2 separate regions of the Homo sapiens genome follow, and region 2 is linked to region 1. The links come from fine-mapping of genetic effects on gene expression. Tissue or cell type: anterior cingulate cortex. Region 1 holds a variant in brackets; the other region holds the start of a gene. All regions are shown on one strand. Distances are from middle to middle.

Region 1 (8,181 bases):
ACTCTTGACCTCGTGATCCGCCCTTCTTGGCCTCCCAAAGTTCTGGAATTACAGGCATGAGCCACCGTGCCCGGCCCGATTTCTTGGTAAAGTAGCAAATAGACCAGTAGGGTGCCTGATATTTTTCCATCTCTTCCCTAGCTCACTGTTTTTTGGGGATAGTGACACTTTTTAAAAAAAAATACAGGGTGCACCTGCTAAAGGAATAATATGGAGACTTAATGACTACTGATTTTTTCCTTCTTGTGCCACTAATGAATTAAGGGACACATCTGAGAGGTAGCTACAATTGTACTAAAATCCACTGTGAGTGTGATTTATGCAAGAAAGATAATATAGCAAAATTTTGATAAATATACATGTTTTAAGTTAAAGCAAATATTTTAAATATCCTTTTTATAAATATCCATTTTCACCAATTTTTTTAAGTTAGCCAAACCAACTACAGGTCCCTACCCTTTAGAAAAGAGGACCTCTACCATTTTGCAATAAACTCTCTTAAGCTTCTCCCTGTCCAGTTGGACCTCTTCCATCCCTTTCTCCACCGTGTGATCAAAGAGAGTTTTTAAAGGCAAATGTTCTGGTATCGCTCCCATGTGTAAAACCAGGCATTGGACCTTCTGAATATACAGGATTCCCTGGAGCACTCAAGAGCCTTTGTGGTCTGCTCCCTGCCCACCTTGCCAACCAAGGCTAGAACTGATGTCACAGTGATGTGCCTCTTTGCTTTGACACACGCTCTTCTTGCTGCCCTGAAAGGCCTTGGCCGCCTTTCCACCTGTTTCTACTTGCCCTGTAGAGCAGTGTAAGTATCATCTCCCCAAGAAGGCCTTTCCTAAGACCCCTATCCAAAGCTGATTTTAATGCTCTTATTCTATGCTCCAGAGCACTCCATTCTTGCCTCTATCATAGCACTTGCCACTCTACTTACAGTGTTCTTACTTGTCTGTCTTTTCTAACTTGACTTTGAGCTCAAGAACAGAGACCTAATTAAAGGCATCTTTGTATTGCTAGGACTTAATGTGGTACCCAGCATATAGTAGCAAAAAAAAATTGTTGAATGAAAAAAATATATGATACATGAATAAGCGATAAGAGAATGCTATACCAGATGTGGGACATACCATGTATATCAGTCTGGGTTCCCACAGGAAACACATGCACACTCAAACGGGTCACTGAAGAGAATTTAAGGAATGCACTATTTATGAAGATGTAAGAGATAAGATAAATAACAAGAGATGGCAAAGCACCAGGACTAGCAAAATTAGGATGCTGTTCCCACCTCTCAGCCTGACTGGCAAGGGAGAAATTATTGGAATTCAAGAGCCATATAGCCCAGGAAGAGGGGCCACTCACGGATGCTGTGGCCTTAGATGTAGAAATACAGCCACTGTCAAACCACAGCCTGGCAGGAGGGACCCCGGGGAATAAATATTGATTTCTCTCTCTTCCCACCTTCTGATCGCCTGCAAGTGCCTCCTGTTGGTCCACCCTACTGGAAGTCTGAGCTGGGCAGAGAAGCACCAAAAGTGGAGCTGGAGGAGCAAACAGAATATCCAGCACACTGCAGAAAGCTGAGATTGGTATTCTTCTACCGCATGGCTACTCCTGCCACCAAGGGGAACACAGAGTAAAGTGACAACACTAATTCAGGTAGACTTTTTTTGTGTGTGTATTTTCTTGAGTTATTGAAAATTTTAAATTTTTTTATTATGGTTAAATATACAGAACATAAAAATTTAACACTGTTACCATTTTTTAAGTGTACATTTTAGTAGCATTAAGTATATTCACATTGTATAAACATCACCACCAATACCTCCATAACGTTTCCATCTTCCCAAACTGAAAGTCTGCATCCATTAAACAATAACTTCCCTCTCTCCCCTCACCTACCTCCTGGTCACCATCATTCTACTTTCTGTCTCTATTCATCTGACTACTCTAGGTACCTCCTGTCAGTGGAATTATACAACATTTGTCTTTTTGTGTCTGACTTATTTCACTTAGCATAATGTCTTCAAGATTCATTTATGTTGTTGCATATGTCAAAATTTCCTTCCATTTCAGGGCTGAATAATAGTCCATTGTGTGTATATTTGTGTGTATGTGTGTGTGTGTGCCACATTTTGTTTATCCATTCATCTATTGATGGACACTTGGGTTGCTTCCACCTTTTGTTATTGTGCATAGTGCTACAATGAATGCAGGTGTATAAATAATGATTTAAGTCTCCGGGAATACAACCCAGAAATAGAATTGCTGGATCATATGGTAATTCTATTTTTAGTTTTTGAGGAACCACCATACATCTTTCCACAGTGGCAGCACCACTTTATATTCCCACCAGCAATGCTTACAAGGTTTCCAAAGTCTCCACATACTCACCAACACTTGCTATTTTCTTCTTTTTAAAATAATAGCCATCCTAATGAATGTGAAATAGTATCTCATTTTGGTTTCCTTTCACATTTTCCTAAAGATTGGTGATGTTAAGCATCTTTTCAATGTGCTTATTGGCCATTTGTATATCTTCTTTGGAAAAATGTCTATTTGATTCTTTTGCCCATTTTGTATTGGGTTGTTTGGTTTTTGTTGAGTTGTAGGAGTTCTTTTTATATTCTGGGTATTAAGCCCTTATTAGATATGTGATTTGCAAATATTTTCTACCATTCTGTGGGTCGCCTTTTCACTCTATTCATAGTGTCCTTTGATGCACAAAAGTTTTTCGTTGTGATGAAGTCCAATTTATATGTTTTTTTCTTACATTTCCTGTGGCTTTGGTGTCATATCCAAGAAATCATAGCTAAATCCAATGTACATTTTTTTAATGAAGAAAAACAAGAAGAAAAAAATCAAGCAAATATCTATCTCTTTTGATGGAGATTTGGGCCATGGTGGTAGGACTTCTGCCAAAATTTAGTATGCAGCAGATATAGAAAGCCCCTTTCCTACCGCAAATAATGCTGGATAACATAGAATCTTCCCCTTCCCCTCAAAAAGTTAAAATACTTGGTCAATTAAAAGGCAGAAAGAGAATTATTCAGGTGCCGGAAGCACAAAGGGAACTGATAGCTGTCACGGTGCCCCAGAGCGGAGGCCACGTGGCCCAGGCCATGGTGGAGAACTAGAACTGAACTCTTAGTGAAAAGAGAGAGCTGCTAAAGAGCTGCCCTGTCACTGATGGAGACTGGAAAGCTCAGTCCACCACCTCTCAAGACACAGAATGAGCCCTGGAGCGAGGCAAAGTCATCTGAGAGAAATCAGAGCACTGCACCTGTGTTCCCAGAAGGCATGGGGTTCAAACACATGCTATTAAAGAAATAAAACAAAAACTACCCCAGAGTTGTAAGCGCCATAAAACCCTAGACAAATGCAAAACCACCTCGTGGAGATGCCTCCAGACATTTGGAGGATGTCCACAGGAGATAAATACACTTAGAATAGGCTCACAGGCACACGAGGGATGACAAGTACATACAACAGACTAGAGACTTCACACTGAGTAACAAGAGGGAGAGCAATCTGGAAGGATGTTAGCATGAGTGTGTTTAAAATGGTCAAATAAATCAATAGATCAAATGCATAAAACAAGAACAAAAGTATATATATATAAAAAAAGAACCAAGTGTATAATTGAAATATACAGCCGTGCAAATGGACCCTGAAGCTGGGCATTCCACCACCAATTTGTGACCCAGCTCCGGCTATAGGGGAGAGGATCCCTCCCTGCCCCCCTGCACCTCAGGAAGACTTCATTGACTCACTGCACCCACCCACCTTACAATGACCCTATTGTACCATCCAGCAACCTGGTGAGAGATGTGTTGGGAATTCAGGCAGAGAGACTGAGAGGACCACACCTGTGCAGCAACCGTGATAATTCATGCTTTGTTTCTTGGCCCTCCCTAATCTCCTAAATCTCTCCCAGTCACCACCAAGAAAGAAGACTGGGAGGGAGAGGCAAGTCTGCACTGGCCGCAAACTGGATTCTGAGTGATTTGAGCTGCCTGTAAAGTTAGACAGTGGGGGCAGAGAGAAGCATCAGTAGTCCTGGTTCCCGGCCCCACCTCTCT[C/G]CACCGAGAAAAACGTTTCTGTTACCAGATTCATATTTTACCCTCACAATGACTTAGTGTCAACATTATCATTAAACATGATCCGCAGAGTCACTAGGGATTCTGGTAGGAATGCAAGCAAAGACAATGACTCCGGAAAGTTGCAAGTCCAGTCTGTAAAGAGACTAACTTCTGGCAAGGGAAGAAACACAAATCTGAAAGTTGGGAAAAGTGTAATTATCACATAGGAAGCAAAGGTTGCTTCATAAATGCTAGCTCACCGTTCTCCTCATCTCCTCACTACTAAGCATCCTCAGCTCCCTGCAACAAGGCTGCTTTCTCCTCCCCATTGCTGAAATTGCTTTCCCCAGAATCAAACAAGTCCTTACCTACCATATAGCCAAATCCAGCAGGCTATTCTCAGCCTTCATTGTCCTTGATGCTTAGCACTGGTAGATGTGGTTGACGGCCCCACCCTCTTGATGCCTGCAGAGGTGGGCTCCATGTGGCAATGAACTGAGGATTGCTCACAATGGAGCCCCTAGCCCAGAGCAGGGCCTGGCACCTAATAGGCACCCTGTGAATGCTCAGTGAAAGAAGGCATCCACTGCAAGGTCCTGGGGAACAAGGAATTCCAATGTGGCCCATATATTTTAAGTCATAGAGGATCCTAGATGTAAAAGGCCTTCAAAAGTGGCCACTCTTTTAAAGCATTATACTGGCAGCTGAGCCATGTTTCCCCATCATGGACACATCTAGAGGGCACTGCCTAAAACCATACACATCTACGCCCCTCCCCAGGAATGTGCAGGGGACTTAGCCTGGGGCATATGGGTGGGCAGAGGGGGGTGAACGATGAAAGCTGAAGAAAAGAAAACAGGTGGAAGGGGCCAGCAGGGTGGGAACAGAGAGAAAAAACAAAGCGGGGCAGGGAACGGAGGGCAGATGGGAGAAGAGAGAGAGAGATACAGATCTAGCCACTGAGGAAAAGGTCAGAAGAGAACACTGTCCTCTACTGAAGTAAAATGACTTCCACCTGACCATGGCACTGCAGGTCGTGGGCAGCACACGCTGGTCATGCTGCGATGTTTAGGACCCATGGCATCTTCCCTTCAAATCCAAATCATAATAGAGAGAGGACTCTGTCCTCATTGAGCCGGCAATATCATGGGATATTGATGCAATATGTATATTGCATAGATATATGCAATATACATATCTGTATGATCATTTCATCAATTCCTTCTCTTCAGGCTTCGCACCTCCCTGATGAGCCAGGTGACACAGACATAACAGAAGATTAAACAGAGAGGGATTGGACCTCAGGGAGTCCTAGCTAGTTTTGACAGGAAGCATAAGAGAGTGGTCCCAGAAAGCAAACAGGAGGTTCCCTTTAAGAGGGAACAGGCACTCCTCCACTCTCTGCAACAGAGCATGGCTGCTATGGGAGCCAAAGAGGAAGACAGCAGCTGGTGTTCATTGCACTGGGCAGATAGGAGCTGAGGAGGATGGAGACTCAGCTATCCCTGTATGGTACAGACATGACACTCAGCACACACAGAGAACCATAACAGCTGCCACACCCTGTGTCTAAGCTGGGTTGAATTTAACATATTGTGGCCAGGGGAATGCAGGCTTTTGGCCCAATGTAGACGCCAGAGAGAGTGTGCCTCCTAGATCTTTTTCATATGTTACCACCCATTATTGCTCCTGATTATTCAGTGTTACCTGGGGGCACGTGATTCCCGCACTTTCTCAGCCTCCTCAACGTAAACATCGTCATCCACATCTTCATCATTTTCTGTAAATACAGGAATGTTCATTCAGATATTTCTCACTTCACATTCTGCAAGCATAGTCAGCCCAATGTGTGCAGACACATGAACATCTAGGCATGGGTCACCATTCAACTGAAAGCTCTCATGTTTTATCTTTAACAAAATGCCCTGGCACAGTTTCCTAATCCATCAGGCAATGCATTTCTGATCTGGAGGGCCACCATCAAGATGTGGCCAAATATTGAAAACATCTTTTGGTCCCCATATCCCTGGAGACTTGTCCAGCCTCTCTCTGGACTTTGGCAGCTGTCTCCGCCATCCTGCCACAGATCTGATTCCCAGGCACAGGCTTGGTGTCCTGTCACAGTTCACATTTCGAAACTAATTCTTTCTCTTAGGAGAGGACAAACTTGTCCCACAGTCCTCTGTCCATCAGGGGACTTCACAGGCCCACCAAGTGGCTTCTGCTGTGTTATTCAGGGACATTCTCTCCATGGAGAGTACTCCAGTCTGAAGCACTCCTACCACCAAATGCCCCCACATCAAGTGCCTTCTCCAACACCACACGGCAAGGAGCTTCATCTCATTTTGAAAAGCAGTCGTTAAGTGTTCCCACATTTGAATGCTAAAGACACTTGCAAGAGACAATTTGCCGGCCTTTGCAGATGGAGAGAGAGAAACCCAGGAAGGATAAATCAATCACTCACCGACAGTTACGAAGGACGTTGCTGAAGATAGAGCCTGGGAACCTCCATGCTTAGTCCAGAGCTCTTTTCACTCTAACAAGCGCCCTCCTGTCACAGCCTCCTTCTTGTCCTTTAAAACTGGAGAGATGCTGCCTCCTGTTCCAAAGACCACCTTCCATCAAGGAAGGAGGGACATTTACAATACTGTGACCACCAATCCCATGGGTTTCCCATCTCTGTTGTTACCCAGGAAGTCCTGGTCATGTCATGGCCACATATGTTTAGTGGAAAAAAACACCACCAATACAACTGTCATTGTGGAGGTATGGAGGTCTGGAGTCTCTCATAAGCCTGGGGTTTTGTGTCATCAGGGCCTGTGGCCACCTTACCTGGGCTGAGTTTGTGGATGAGGTTCTCTGTCAGCCTGCAGCCCTCAGCCAGCTGCTCTCAGATATCCTGCCCCTGGGAGTTGTCAGGCTCATCCGGAGTGAGGAGGGCCTGGAGATGCTGATTCAATGAGCGGGAGGCATCTCTCCCTTCCTGTAATCTCTTCCTTAACCAGGCCAGCTCTCGTGCCTGAGAGTGAACTAGGACTTTATATTGCCTAAGGTGAGACAGTAGAGAAAATTTAATAATGGAAAGGGATGAGTGATCAGTTCTAATATTGCAACAGAGATCTCTGAGACAATGTCCTCAAGGAGACCTCCAAGCAGAAGGTCAGCACATGTTTGGGGAAATGCCTGTGGCCAAGACAAAAAGAATTTTTTTTACAGGCTTCCTCTATATCAGAGAGTGCAACTGAAATATCCTCGACAATGTTGCATTCATATTTCTCTTCTGTAAACAAAAGTAGGTCTTTCTAAATCAGTTTCAAAAAGACATCCTTTCAATTCCTCACTTTGGCCATCGACATTTCCATGTGAAAATACACATAAGGTATTTTGTGGTGACTAGATACAAAGCCAGGTACAGAAATGAGGCTAGGTGCAGATGGGGCAAATTGAAAAGACGAAAGAAGAAAAGAATGACAGGGTCGAGAAGGCAACACTGATTGAGTGAAAGAATGAGAAGCCGCAGTCCGTCAGGAGGTGATTCTGACTAAGGGTAAGTGGGGTGATGATGGCACACCATTTTGAGTATACTGAATGCTGCTGGGTGGTTTCCACTCCTTTGGTTAATTTTGCATTATGCAAGTTTCACCTCAACAGTTACTTGTTTGAAAAAGAGAAAACAAGGTTCTGAGAAACAACTGCAACTCATAACTTATTATTATCCTTGTTCTCTGTTTGATAAATATTTGGGTGTCGTGAGCCTGCCATGGCAATTCCTGCCCTTCCCCTGGCCCAGCTTAGCTCTTATTTCTCCCGGCTGAGCTGCTGTACTTCAGAGATTCACATACCTGCCCACCTGCCTGCCCCCACGGGGCCGCCTCACCTGAGCTCCTCAGCTTGCCCAAGCTGCTCTGCAAGCTTCTCGTCCTTGAATTGCAGCTCATCCCTCAGCATAGATTTTATGAGGTCTTTGAATTCTTCATACTCTGAGAAAAGACAGACGCGCCTGCCTCAGTGGAAGGCTAGACATGCTGCTGTGGTCATTGCCTACAGGGCAGGAGACAGGTCCATCCCAAGGACAAAACTGTCCCCAGTACCAGGCTCTAGG
Region 2 (8,181 bases), 31 kb after region 1:
CTATAATCCCAACACTTTGGGAGGCCAAGATGGGTGAATCACATGAGGCCAAGAGTTCGAGACCAGCCCGGTCAACATGGTGAAACCTCATCTCTACTAAAAAAAACAAAAATTAGCCAGGCGCTGTGGGACATGCCTGTAATCCCAGGTACTCGAGTGGCTGAGGGACAAGAAGCACTTGAACCCGGGAGGCGGAGGTTGCAGTGAACAGAGATCACACTGCTATGCTCTAGCCTGGGCGACAGAGGGAGCCCCTGTCTCAAAAAACCAAAATAATAATAACAAATTAACCTTAGATTACTGTAAATTTACGTTATAAACTTGGAAATTCCTTTTTCTTTCCTTTTTCTTTTTTTTTTTTTTTTTGAAATGGAGTCTCACTCTGTCTCCAGGCTGGAGTGCACTGCCACAATCTCGGCTCACTGCAACCTCCGCCTCCCGGGTTCAAGCGATTCTCCTGCCTCAGCCTCCCAAGCAGCTGGGAGTACAGGTGCGTGCCACCACGCCCGGCTAGTTCTTTCTCTGTAAGATGGGGTTTCACCACGTTGGCCAGGATGGTCTTGACCTGTTGACCTCGTGATCCGCCCGCCTCGGCCTCCCAAAGTGCTGGGATTACAGGTGTGAGCTACCACGCCCAGCCTAACTTGTAAATTCTTTAAATGTTTGACTCTTTTGTAATAACACTTAGCTTAAAGCACACATTATACAACTGTAGAAAATATTTTCTTTCTTTATATCCTTCTTATGTAAGTTTTTTCTATTTTTAAAATTTTTATTTTTTTTTAAGTTTTTTGTTAAAAACTAAGACACACACACACAAAAAAAAAAAAAAAAACTAAGACACAAACACACGTATTAGCCTAGACCTGCACAGGGTCAGGATCATCAATATAACTGTCTTTCACTTCCACATCTGGTCCCACTGAAAGGTCTCCAGGGCAAAAACACACATCTCCTGTGATAACAATGACTTCTTCTGGAATACCCCCTGAAAGACCTGCCTGAGGCTGTTTTTTAAACTTTTTTTTAAGTTTTACTGTTTTTTTAATAAGTAGAAGGAATACACTCTAAAATAATGATGAAAAGTATAGTGTAGTAAATACATAATGCAGTAACAGTCATTTATTACCATTATCAAGTATTGCATACTACACATAATTGGTATGTGCTATATTTTTATACAACTGGCAGCACAGTAGTTTGTTTACACCAGCATCACCACAAACACATGAGTAAAGTATTGCGCTAGACAGCTACAAGGTCACTAGGCAACTGGAATTTTTTTAGCTCTATTATAATCTTATGGAACCACTGCTGAATACATGATCCATCGTTGGCTCAAACACTGTTATGCAGTGAATGACTGTACTTAATTTTATAATCAGTATGATCACAATTATGCAAATATTTGTTACATATGCATAAAAAGACTAGAAATATGAAAATGTTTATCTTTGGCTCATGTATTTATAAATCATTTTTTATACATTGATATATTTTCCAAGCCTTCTAAGAATGGAATCTTTGTACAGATTAAAAAGTTACAATAAGTGTTATTGTTGTTTTTAAATTTCTACCCAATGTTGCTTCCTGCAGAAATTATTCTGTGACCACTCCAAGAGGACTTGGAAGCCCCTCCTCAGTGTTCTCCTAGTATCCAATAGTATCCTCTACCATTCACTAAGCACACTGGATTTTAATTGTTTGCTTATCTAACGCCCAATACTTGGAACTCTTCAGAGAAAGAGACTGATTCTCTAATCCCTGAATTCCCAGGCCTACCACATACACTAAAGCACTCCTAAGGTCTGTGGACCAGATGAAGAAATCAGATGAGTAGGGGTACGCAAACCCAGGCATTCCCATTCTAAACCCAGTCGCATTGCAATCCCTGCAACAAAAGGGATCCGAGATTTCCTCCACTGGTGACTGTGACCTGGGGACTGGGAAGTACTGTATACAGGAAGATCTTGAAGAGCTGTCCCCTTGAATAGTCAGCACCAGGGTTGCACGGAAAGTAATAGCTGAAATCCAAGTTGGGTTTTCCTGGCAACAGCCAATATTAGTCAGAGGTGGCACTTGGAGGATTCCCCAGGTCTGCTCATTCCTTTAGGATCATTCATTCCTCCCAAGGCCTCCCTTGGGAACAAAGGAAAACCCCAGAGTTTGGGATTGGGCTCTTTTCCACCAACAGCTGCTAGTAGTTTGTATTTAACCCTGAGTCACAATTAAAATAAAAGAGGGCGGGCGGGGGAGGGGCGAGGAGTTGGTAAGCATCCCCTAGGAAACACTTAGGTTTTCTCTAAATTTATTCCAGAAAATTCTTCTAAAGGACTTTTCAAGGACCACAGCATACTGCCTTGGAAACTTAGTTTTTAACCTTTTTCTTTTCTTTTTTTCTTTTTTCTTTTTTTTTTTTTTTTTTGAGACAGAGTCTCACTCTGTCACCCAGGCTGGAGTGCAGTGGTGCGATCTCGGCTCACTGCAACCTCTGTCTCCCAGGTTCAAGCGATTCTCATGCCTCAGTCTCCTGGGATTACAGGCGCGCATCACCACTCCCGGCTAATTTTTGTATCAGTAGAGACAAGGTTTCACCATGTTGGCTAAGCTGGTGTTGAACTCCTGACCTGAGGTGATCCGCCCGCCTCGGCCTCCCAAAGTGTTGGGATTACAGGCGTGAGCCACCGCGCCCGGCCAGTTTTTAACACTATTAGCCACACTGAAACTGAACTATTGATCAAGTGACGCCACACAAAGGGGTAAATCCCCTGTTCAACAAAGGGTTTGTGACGCCCCTGGGTGCTGACAAGCCAAACCGCACCCTCCCTGCGGCACCTCGCGGGCCGGTGGGGCGGGAAGCCCGGCTTCTGGGGAGGTGCCGCCCCTCCACTGGCGCAGGCCGCCGAGACCCCCAGACGGACCTCCTAGGGCTAATCTGATAGTGCCTCTGAGGTCGATAGGACTCCACGTGCCACTCCCTGCAGGGTCATCCAGCAAGTAATTCCTAGACCCGTAGGTGGCCGCAGAGCCGGTTACCTCTGGTTCTGCGCCAGCGTGCCCCACCCGCAGGACGGCCGGGTTCTTTGATTTGTACACTTTCTAAAACCAAACCCGAGAGGAAGGGCAGGCTCAGGGTGGGGATGCCCTGAAATATTCGAGAGCAGGACCGTTTCTACTGAAGAGAAGTTTACAAGAACGCTCTGTCTGGGGCGGGCGAGGCCTCTGCGAGGCGGGTCCGGGAGCGAGGGCAGGGCGTGGGCCGCGCGCCCGGGGTCGGGGGAGTCGGGGGCAGGAAGAGGGGGAGGAGACAGGGCTGGGGGAGCGCCCTGCCGAGCGCCCGCCAGGCTCCTCCCGCTCCCGCGCCGCCTCCCTCTACCCACCCGCCGCACGTACTAAGGAAGGCGCACAGCCCGCCGCGCTCGCCTCTCCGCCCCGCGTCCAGCTCGCCCAGCTCGCCCAGCGTCCGCCGCGCCTCGGCCAAGGTGAGCTCCGCCCGGCCCACGCGCCCCTCCTGGGTAGTCCCCAGGCCCGGACCTGCTGCCCGGGGAAAACCCTGCACCCGGCTTCGCGGGGCGTCCGGAGCACCGCGGGGCTGGGCGGGGAGCGGCTGGTGGGGAATCCGCTGCTCAGTGCTCCGGGCCACACCCAAACGAGGCCAGCAGCGCCCCTCCCCGGCCCGGGCGCGGCCGCCCCCAGACCCACGCGGACCAGAGGAGGGGGCACTTGTTCTTTAGGAGGGGACCGTGGTATTGGTGCGCCTGAACCTCTTCCCTCCTCCCTTTATGTTTGCGTTGCTTTACTCCCACCTTTCCTACTTTCCCACTCGTCTCTCGGGTTACCGAATCCCTCCTACACGCCCCTGCCCTGGCTGGCGTGTTTCTTGGTGGGTTCCGCTCGCAGGCCGGGTCTGCATGTTCGTAGCCTGCTCCCGGCTGTACCGCCCAAGTAGGCGCGGGTAGGACGAGTAGGCAGCTGGGGCGTCCCTTCCGTAACCCTTAGTCCGTCGGCCAAACAGGCGTTTCTGGTCGGGGCTTCCTGTTGTCTGCTCGACGGAAAGGGTCTTCCTGCTGAGGGAGGGAGGTCCACTTGTTTTCTTTCTACAGCAGTTTGGCTGGGGTTTGTGGGAGAGGGCCCTGTGTGACGTGGTTTCTCTACTGAAAGGGTTCCCTTGCTGTCTTAATAAGTGGAACCAGAAAGAGATGGAGGAAGAGCAGGCTTGATGAAGGATCTTCCAATCATAGATTAATTTGGCCCGGTGCAGTGAAACAGACAGACGTGCCTTTGGTACTTGGTTCACCACCTGTGCTTTGGCCGAAGGAATGGCGCTGCCCCTAGCCGTGGACACTGCTGCCTGTCCAGCCTCAGTCCAGCTCTGCCTAAGTGAAACCAGGAGCTCTGCCTTGTTGGCTGGGGTGGAATGCAGAGCGCTCCAAGCCAGGCCAGCACAGGGGAGCCCTAAGCCAGATTCTGGGATGCATTAAGCCCACCCCGTTTTCTGCCCCCACCCAGTTCCGTCTCTGCGGGAGCTTCTGCAGGGCGTGGTTAGCACAAAGGGCTCCAGGATTCTCCCAGTGGTCTGAGGCCTGTGACTCAGCTGTGAGACCATGTGGGTGTGGCCGGTTGCAGATACTCTCGGTGGATGGTTTGGACAGAACACTCCCTGAAGGAAAAGGAGAACTGTGCCATCTCAGAGGGCATTTTCCAAGAGGAAGTGAGTCACACCTGGTCTGGCTGCCAGTCTGCAGGAGAGGTTTCTCGACTGAACTGCCGGTGAGGGCAGTAATTAGATCTGCAGGGCCTTGGCGAGACCGCTTTTCGTTATCGGCCAGTATGCGCCTGGCAGCCTGCCTCAGCCTTACTTGGGAGGTAGCTTTTCCCGCTAAGAGGTTTGCAGTTGTTGCGGATATTTTTCCCCAGAAGCTTGAGTTTCAGTCTCCAGGAATGGAGTTTTATGTTGTGCGTTTTAGGTGAGGCCAGGCTCATGGAAACACCCAGTCGGTGATCTTTGCCTCCAACATGTTTCAGCAAATTGCAAAAGATAATGCCAGGGGTTGGAGTGGGAATGAGTTCATATAACTTATTGGAAGTTTCTTCATCGGCCCTGCCCCCACAGATTCCTATCCAGTTTCTCTTTAATCATCCCTTCCAAATGGTGTATTTGTTCCTTCACAGCCAGAGGATAGTTTCTTCACTGTGGCCCTTGATCCACCATTTGGAGTTTCTTATCTAGGTTCTTACAATTTTTTTGGTCTACTGGGCATGAAGCAATTTTTGGGTCTTACCCTGCTTTCTGGGTGATGCTCTTCCTAGCTTTTCTCCGACACATCATATAGGCCCCTTTCCTCCCGTGTGCTGGCCAGCCTCCTAAGCAGCCACTCCAGTGAGGTCAGGGTGGAGCTGAGACTGTGTGCCTCCCTGCTTTCTACTGACAGTTCAAAAAATGTGACTTTTGTAGAGCACAACCCACTTGGTATACCCTTGGACACAGTCCAGTCTTTTAAAGCGTAAAGTTGAGAGAAACAATGGAATTCTTTCAGGATTATAATGTATAAATTAGCACTCAAAGTGCTGAGAAAGCTGGACTAAAATTTTAACATCTTAAGTTTCTCATTTTTCTGGGGACTCAACAAATTTAGGAATCCACATCAAAAGCAAAAAGAAAGAATGTACTTCTTTTAAACAATTTTCAGCACTTTCTATCCCTTTACTAAATAAATACCACCCATCCTACCAAAGGATTTAACTAAAAGCAGTTTTGACAGTAGCTATGTTGGCTGATTAGGCTGATGCCTAAGCATTCTTTAAGGAAAAATTGATGTAGTTGGTTAGATTGAAGGAGGTTTCTTCCAAGTTCTTTCTTCCTATTGAATTGCATCTGAAACGTTCCTTTGCTGCCCAGTTCTTTAGTGGGCAAGTTTTAGTTGGTGAGAGGTGAGAGAGACAGCCTGGATCCAGATCCATTGCTTCAACTCATTTTTTCTGAATTCCCTTCAGAGATCAAATTTAAGAATGCCTTCTGGGTTCAATTTTAAAAACTCCAAAATTTCTAAAGCAAAAGGAAGGAAACCTCAAACATATTTTAAATAACAGATGTTTGTTTTTACTGACACCCTGCCGTTTATTTTCTGGGTGGGCTGTAAGAAAACTAGGGTATGGACAAGACACAGAGGAGCAAAGCAAGTCCGACTCACTCTGCAGAAGTGTCCTCTTTGAAACTGCAGCCGGGATCTGGGCATAGGTCCAAAGCAAACATTTGAGATTTTTCAGGAGCAGACACTTTTCTGAGGAGGACTCCTGCTTGTCTGCTACTCGCAGGACAACCAAAATACATCATTATCAATTTCTTAACAATTCATCGAGCAGGCTCTATGAGGGCTGGGGCACTGGCTATTGGGACCCTGCTCAAAAAACCTGCAACCTAGTGAGGAAAGAAACAGAAACACAAATAACTAGAATTCAGGCCAAATGCTTTAATAGTATTCCATTAGCTGGTGAACTCCTCAAAGGCAAGCACCATGGAGAGCTTTGTGTGTGTGTGCATGTGTGTATGTGTGTGTGAACACCCTCATGCCTAACACCATGTCTGGGACATTCAAAGTAGGTGCTCAGGGAGGGAGAACCAAAAATGGAAAATTGAATTCCTCCTAAGGTAACTAAATTTGTGGAGTCCAGAATTGTTTTCCATAGAGAAAACTATGCAGAGAAAGATGTCTCCGCCTCCCTTCTTAAGACCTGTTGCTCAGACAAACATGTAGAGGGCATGTATAGGCATCAGATTAGAATACTTCAATAAAAGGTGAGTGGACAGCAAGGCTGTTATTATCCTGTGGAGCTCAGCAGTGAGATAGCAGCACTAGAAAAGCAAAAAGTAGAAGATGGGATGAATGAAACACGAGAAAATAGCAAGTGTTAGAAGAGAAGGAGCACAGTCATGTCATTCTGACTAGACCTGTTTAGCAGGACACATATTTTTCCTTTTGCGTATGGAATGTGCACTCCTGTGTACTCTATCTACTGTTCCGTTCATAGTTGAACACTTTTGGGGCCCCTTTCCTGGCCCTTCCCAGCTCTCACATCGTCCTCCTGAGCTCTGAGCTACAAGGCTTTCAGCCTAGTCCTGGGTAATCACACCTGCACCTCAGCTACTGCCCAAGGGATTGTGTGGTTCATTTATGCACATAACAGTTATATAGTGCTCCATGAATAAAAGCAGAATAATTTGTAGTTCTTAATCAAGAGAAGCTTAAATCTCAGGCAGACAAGTAAACAATTAAATGAAATTGAATGTTTCAGGTGCAAGAGTACGTTATTGGGGATAGAGAGGACACTGCAGCCCCTCAGCCCCAGCCCCAAGGCCCTCCTGTCAAAATGTGTCTAACCAGGATGCAGGAAGCCCACATCTGTCCAGGAATAGAGCTTGCAGAGTGGCTACGTGAGGGTGGAAATGCCAGATTGAAGTCCCTGAAGAACTTCAGTTTTGGCAGCTAGCAGTGCTGCAGACAGCCCTGCCCAGGCAAGCCCCACCCAAGAACGGAGGGCCAGGCAGGGCTGACTCAGTTGGGCAACCATTGGCTGCACTCAGACAAGAGTTACATGATTCATCCTCTAGCCAAGAGAACAGAGTTTTAATCACAACATTTCCCCCTTTCCTTTGTCTTATTTTAAAGCCAGTGTGCAACTCCTTCCCCAAAACAGAGTTCCTTGCTGTGGCCCTGGTCAGTGCCCTTTGGGGTACTGGTTGCTGAGGAGACAAGGGCTTCTCCACTGATTTTCAATGCTATTTTCACCTCCTGGCTACTCCCTCCTCTGCATCCTTATTGCAGAAGGCCTACTGGACACACAGGGAGTCAGCTGGCTGCAATATTCACAATCCATCCACTGAATAAAACCGCTGGGGGAGGAGGGGAGGGGAAGACCAAGTGGGAGAAGGATGTAACTTCAGAGAAGGAAGCTCCGTCACTTCGTAATGGCTGTGGGCAAGAGAGGCATGCGACTGAGTGACTTCAGACCTAAGCACTCACACAGTGTGAGGTAGACTCACCTTGCTCTCCTGAAGAAGATACTCAAGGGTGGCCAGGATTTCCTCAGCTGACAACTTGTATTTCTTAGAACCTCCTAAAATTAGCCTTTTTAAAATTTAGAGGTCCTTACCCTGCTGCATTCCCTTTCTTAATTCTGCAC

The links. PIP is the estimated chance that this variant, and not a neighbour inherited with it, causes the effect.
Region 2: S100A10 starts here. The variant in region 1 is fine-mapped to the expression of S100A10 in anterior cingulate cortex (GTEx, PIP 0.92).

The regions. Positions count from the first base shown.
Region 1 is chr1:152,020,115-152,028,295 of GRCh38, reverse strand. It overlaps LOC105371442 (a long non-coding RNA gene), which reads left to right and starts at 708. Exons shown (of 3, transcript XR_001738235.2): 1 at 708-805; 2 at 1,477-1,656. It also overlaps the pseudogene NBPF18P. The variant C/G (reference allele first, on the strand shown) is at 4,080.
Region 2 is chr1:151,989,053-151,997,233 of GRCh38, reverse strand. It overlaps S100A10 (S100 calcium binding protein A10), which reads left to right and starts at 3,375. Exons shown (of 3, transcript NM_002966.3): 1 at 3,375-3,482. RefSeq lists silencers at 2,948-3,077, 3,208-3,257, 3,268-3,567 and an enhancer at 4,136-5,335.